2 separate regions of the Homo sapiens genome follow, and region 1 is linked to region 2. The links come from fine-mapping of genetic effects on gene expression. A gene starts in region 2. The other region holds a variant in brackets. All regions are shown on one strand. Distances are from middle to middle.

Region 1 (2,931 bases), 48 kb before region 2:
CCCAGTTCATTATTCCGCAGTTTAGGGAGTTATCTGATTCAAAAAGTTTCACAGAAAAGTGACTCTAAGTGATAAGCCATCACTCTTACACTCTAAAGGAATCAGATTTCAATAGGAGAGTGAGACTTTTCCTGTTTCAACGTTGTTTAAAGATCTATCGCCAAAAAGGAAAAAAAAAAAAAAGAAAAGAAAGAAGTAAGTCACCTTTATTTTTTTAAAGACGACTTCTTCTTTGGATTTAAAGGTGGAAGGAAAAGTGTAATGATCATGCAACACAGAAAAATAAAAGAAGAGAACACTTGCTTCCTTCCTGTTCTCAGCCACCAGTGCCCTTCCAGTCAGGAAGGAAAGCGAGATCTTATCAGCAAACATTCACAAATGCAGGGACAGATACTCCATCAAAAACAATCTAGAGAATTATCTGGTTTTGTCTGTAGCAGATCACAGCTGCAATATACACCATTGTGGGTAGCCATATAATAATTAAGTAATAAATGTTATTATGCTTTAAGTTTCATTAAAATCACTAGTGAGATACATAACCTTTTTTTCTCACAACACTTTGCAAGTGTTAACATACATTTGATTTTTAGTCAGTAGAGATCTCATATATCTTGTAAATCATACCATAAACCATTTGAATTCACAAATATATATATATATTTATATAGATACATGATTTTGAAGAATCTTGAAACTAAACTTCTAATCCTTATCGCATTTTTGAACACGTTTTTCAGAGATTCATTTATTTCCATTTGATTCTTTGAAATATACTATCCTGCTATACTTTGAGTATAAAATACAGAGTGTACTCTGCATCACACAGTTCAGGAAGCAGGCTGAGGTTGGGGGCCTGCTGAAGCCCTTGAGAGAGAGGGCTCTAAATTCAGCAAGTTCCTGTCTTAAAAAATGGCAGCCTAGGGTATTGCCTAAACTTAGTACTTTAGACTTTCGTTGGGTGCTAGGATTAGAAACCAGCTCTGACAAATTTGGATCATCAGTTTATTTATTCTAGAATATGTGGAACAATCTGAGATGACAAGGGCAGGCTTGCATTAGTTCTCAGAAACAGCTAGAGCTGGTGAGCTGAGCACCACCAGGTAT[T/C]TCTCATTGTGGCTACACTCCTTAGACAGCTTTATTTTCTCTCAGTGTGACCCAATCTTCTCTGCATAGCATGATGCATGAACAATGAACTGTCCTGGGTTTTAAACCTTAAGAGTTTTTCAATCAAAATAGTGTGACTACTTCTCTTTATGGTCCAGGCTTAAATAGCTTGAGACTAGCTCTGATAGTTTTAGCATGAAACAAGGGACACCTTTTGGACCAATCCATTTGAGTTGGGAATTGTAGGAGACCATCATAGATTTGGTGGACCCAAAACCAGTCTGGGGTCAGGAATAAGAAAATGTAATAGCATGGCAAATATTAATGGAACCATATGGTTTGGGTGGTGGAAACGGACAAGTGTAACTCCCAGAAGGAGGAAATTGTTGCTTTCAGAAGGGAAGGGTGTTAGACAGATAAATGACTATATGACTATATGACTATATACCACAGCAAGCCATAGCTAAATAGTAGCGTATGTAATTTTTTTTTTAAAAAAAAGAAAAGCAAAAGGCAAATAAAGTACATGAATTGCAGGAGGAATCAAATATCTAAATTTTTACTCAAAAATGCTGTCTGGTTCTGGGTGATAACAGATTTAATGTAGGGATGAATCCATGCACCAACTTCTATATACCATGCAAAATCTTTTTCCTTTTGGAAAAATCCAGCTTTCTTAAAATTAGAAAACAGAGATTTATAAAACACCATTTGCAGATCTCCTCCCCCCATAGTTCAGCAGAGAATTTGCTGTAAACATCTGCTTGATAAGCCCATAATCCTGGCTTTCTAATAGAAACATCTTCTTTTAAAAAAATTGACCCCATTATTTAAAATAGTTTTAGATTTAAAAAAAAATAGAGAAGAATGTACAGAGACTTCTCATACACCTCACACCCAGTTTCCCTATTAACATGTTACGTTAGTATGGTGCACTTATCGTTAATATACCAAAATTGATACATTGTTACTAACTAAAGTCCATATGTTAATCAAATATCCTTATCTTTTCCCCAGCACGTTTCTGTTCTAGCAACCCATCCAGAATACCAAATTGCTCTAGTTGTCATCTCTCCTTAAGTTCCCTTGGCTGTGACAGTTTCTCAGATTTTTCTTATTTTTGATGATCTTGACAGTTTTGAATAATACTGGTCAGGTATTTTGCAGGGTATCCCCTTAATAGAATTTATCTGATGTTTTTACTCATAATTAGACCAGGGTTATGGGGTTTGGGAAAGAAGATAACAGAGTTAAAGTGCCATTTTTGTCACATTATGACAAGGATACATACTACCAACATAATTTATGACTGCTGATATTGATCTTAAACACCTGACTGGGGTAATGATTGTTAGATTTCTCCACTATGAAGTTACTTTCTACCCCTACCTTTCCATACTGTTTATTTATTTATTTTTTTATACTTTAAGTTCTGGGATATATGTGCAGAACATGCAGGTTTGTTACATAGGTATGCACATGGCATGTTGGTTTGCTGCACCCATCAACCCATCATCTACATTAGGTATTTCTCCTAATGCTATCCCTCCCCTAGCCTCCCACCCCCTGACAGACCCCGGTATGTGATGTTCCCTTCCCTGTGTCCATGTGTTATCATTGCTCAACTTCCACTTATGAGTGAGAACATGTGGTGTTTGGTTTTCTGTTCCTGTGTTAGTTTGCTGAGAATGATGGTTTCCAGCTTCATCCATGTCTCTGCAAAGGACATGAACACATCCTTTTTTATGTCTGCATAGTATTCCATGGTGTATATGTGCCACATTTTCTTTATACAGTCTATCATTGATAGGCATTTGGGTGGGT
Region 2 (2,931 bases):
CAATATAACTACTCAAATCAGTAAAAATAAATATTTTAAAGTTTTACTCTTATTTTAAAATTACTTGATTAGTTATCTGTATTTACATTAATATTTTTCAATCTTTGTTGATCCCTAATTATATTTCATATAATTTTATTAAGCTGTAGGCCACAAATTAACATTTCAAACTCAGCCAAATTTCAGGGACTATCCCTCTTTAGTTTAAGGATTAGATGAGATATGGACACTGTATATTGAAATAATCATGCACTAGAATGATAGATTTAAAATAATCTTTAAAATGTGTTAGGGAGATTTTGCCTCCCTAACACATTTTATTCAAAAGTTTTGCAGTATCTCTCAAAATTGTCACAACTTTCCCCCTTTCATGTAAATATTATGCTTTTACACATGAAATATGACTCTCTGGGCAGTATGTTTCCTGCTTGAGTTTTGCCCTTTGTGTTTATATTATCTCATGTTATACAAAGTCATTTTGTGACTAATTTCCAGAGCACTGAGTCACAGTGTGGCTGTTGCTTATCTTTTCTTTTTTCCCACATGGTAGTACTCTTGGCCCTTATTTTTGGTAATTATTTTATACTAATGAGTGCTTTTTCATAATTAAATAATTGTTTCTCTCATTATATTTCTGTGGTTGTTTACTGCTGTATTATATGCTTTCATTTTTCACTAGAAGCAAACATTTTATAACAGGAACATAACAGTACATCATGTAGGCATGTTATCTATTGTTTTAATTTACAAAATTGCACAACATAGACTTGATCGTAAGTATTCTCGTTTAAGTATCTCAGAATATGACCTTTGGTCTTTGGAGAATTGTAAAATATTTCCTTAGAGAGATTAGTTAATGCTGGCATAAAATATTCCATTTAGATTACGATTATTTTAATGGTTATACCTCATTTTAAATATCATCAACTAATAGTATTGAAAGATTATTTGAATAGAAGAATAACAGTCTCTATTTTATATGTTATGAAATAAAATGGAAAGGTAAACCGAACTTTCAAGAACTTCCAATTAACCAAGCACAATTAGTAAAGAATTCTACTACAATCTTCAAATTATAAAAAAGCTACATACACCAATTAGTTACAAAAATGTTTATGGTTTAAAATCATAAAAATTGCACATAAATTTGCTTAAGAACTAAATGCAAAATGCTGAGAACTCAAGTTTGGATTGCAGTTTGAGTTTACTCTGTTTACAGGGAAGGGCTGATTTTCATTTTACGCAAATAAACAGTGATCCTCCCCTATCAGTTCTTTGCCTCTCAGCACCCTGCTTTTCCCCCGAGAAAAAGAAATTAAAGTTATTTCTTATGGGCTAGACAGTATATTGCCAGGTACTCACAAGTAAAATCTCTGATGAAAGTTCTTGGAATGTTTTTTTCAAAACGGAGTTGAGGTTATTTTGTTTTTCCTTCCAGGTATTGAAGACAGGATTTATCTTCTCTACTTCTTCTTTTAGAAGCAGATCAAGAAACTGGCGATTGAAGAGTAACTGAAAGAAACGCAATCTGATCTTACTAGCAGTGAAAGAGCGAGGTAAGAATTTGACTATTATCCAGCCTAAAGTCGCTGCTGTCTGTTAGAGCAAAGAGGGAGCCTCAGAGTCGGCTTCAGAGATCACTGGCAGTTGGGAATAGCCCAACTTCCTGTTTAGGTCACTGCAACTCTGACTCTATTTAGTCTAAACCTCTTTTTTCTTTCTTTCTTTCTTTTTTTTAGTGGAGGAAACAGATGAAGGAAACAGCTTACACCAAGATTTCAGATACGATCATTTTGAATAGCTATTTCCTTTACTTTCCAGGATTGTTTTTGTAATCAGTTGAAAAAGAATGCTTTTTTCCCCCTAGAGTTAGGGTTTAAAAAATTACATATTTATTATTACACTGTTAATAAGCTTTTTTGCAGTTTGTTTCTTCTTCAAGTTATTTCATTTGTTTCACCCACTGTCAATGTATTTATTTTTTTTAAAAGTCTGAGGGCTACCGTTGGAGGTCTCTCTTAGTGAGACAATGTAATGCATTATCTATTGCAGGTGTCAGGCTTTGAGCCCTACCTTAGCTACTTGCTAACTTGGCTACTCAGCCCAGTTATTTGAATTCACTATGCCTCAGTTCCTTTGTTCCTAAAATGTCGATAATAAAAGTTTCTGGGCTTGATGTAAGTACTAAATGGCTTAATACATAAAAAGTACTTAAGGCAGGACCCAGCATGTAGCAAACCTCCAATAATTGTTGGCTATCATTATCGCTGTTTTCTGTATTTCTATTATTATTATTCTACAAAATATGTAAATATTTACAGATGTCAACCAGAGTCTCTGCTGTATGTCCCTATCATTGAGGTTCATCCGTACTGTCTCTGTATTGGAATTATGGTCATATCAGACTAAGATCACTAGAGATCTAATAAATGGGCAGAATCTACTTTGCCAGGAAGGCTGAAGACATTTGGTCAGAAAATGTAGGAGTTTCTTGCTTCTGCATCTCAGATTCTTTGTGCCTTCAATTTTTCTTGCTTTCCTTAGACCTCTCTGTAAAAGGTAACCTTTCATCTTGAGTGTTTTTAATACATATTGAATAATTATTTGGTGGTGACTGGAACATAAATTATCGATTTAATTCTCACAACTAGCTTATAAAGAAGGTCCTCTTTGTATGCCCATTTCACATGTCTAGGAAGATCGAGTTCAGTATGTGGAGCTGTGATTCTAATGTCATGCAGTCTGCCTTTAGAGCAAAAATGCATAAATCCTCCTCCATGCTGCCTTCTCACTCATGTTCTGGATTTCATATCATGTTAATAACTTATCTCCTATTACCTCATGCCCTGCCCCTCAACCACAATCAAAGCTATCATCTCACTCAGATTGTAGAGGAAAGTCCTTTTTTCTTGGTACCACCATGGACCTTGA

The links. PIP is the estimated chance that this variant, and not a neighbour inherited with it, causes the effect.
Region 1: its variant is the best candidate, but not a certain one, in a credible set for the expression of TFPI in nasal epithelium (TOPMed, PIP 0.70).

The regions. Positions count from the first base shown.
Region 1 is chr2:187,504,398-187,507,328 of GRCh38, forward strand. The region is part of intron 1 of TFPI (tissue factor pathway inhibitor); the gene reads right to left. All of the region lies in intron 3 of CALCRL-AS1 (CALCRL and TFPI antisense RNA 1), which reads left to right. Among named protein-coding and RNA genes, the nearest start is that of TFPI, 49 kb to the right of the region's middle. The variant T/C (reference allele first, on the strand shown) is at 1,108.
Region 2 is chr2:187,552,838-187,555,768 of GRCh38, forward strand. It overlaps TFPI (tissue factor pathway inhibitor), which reads right to left and starts at 1,598. Exons shown (of 8, transcript NM_006287.6): 1 at 1,363-1,598.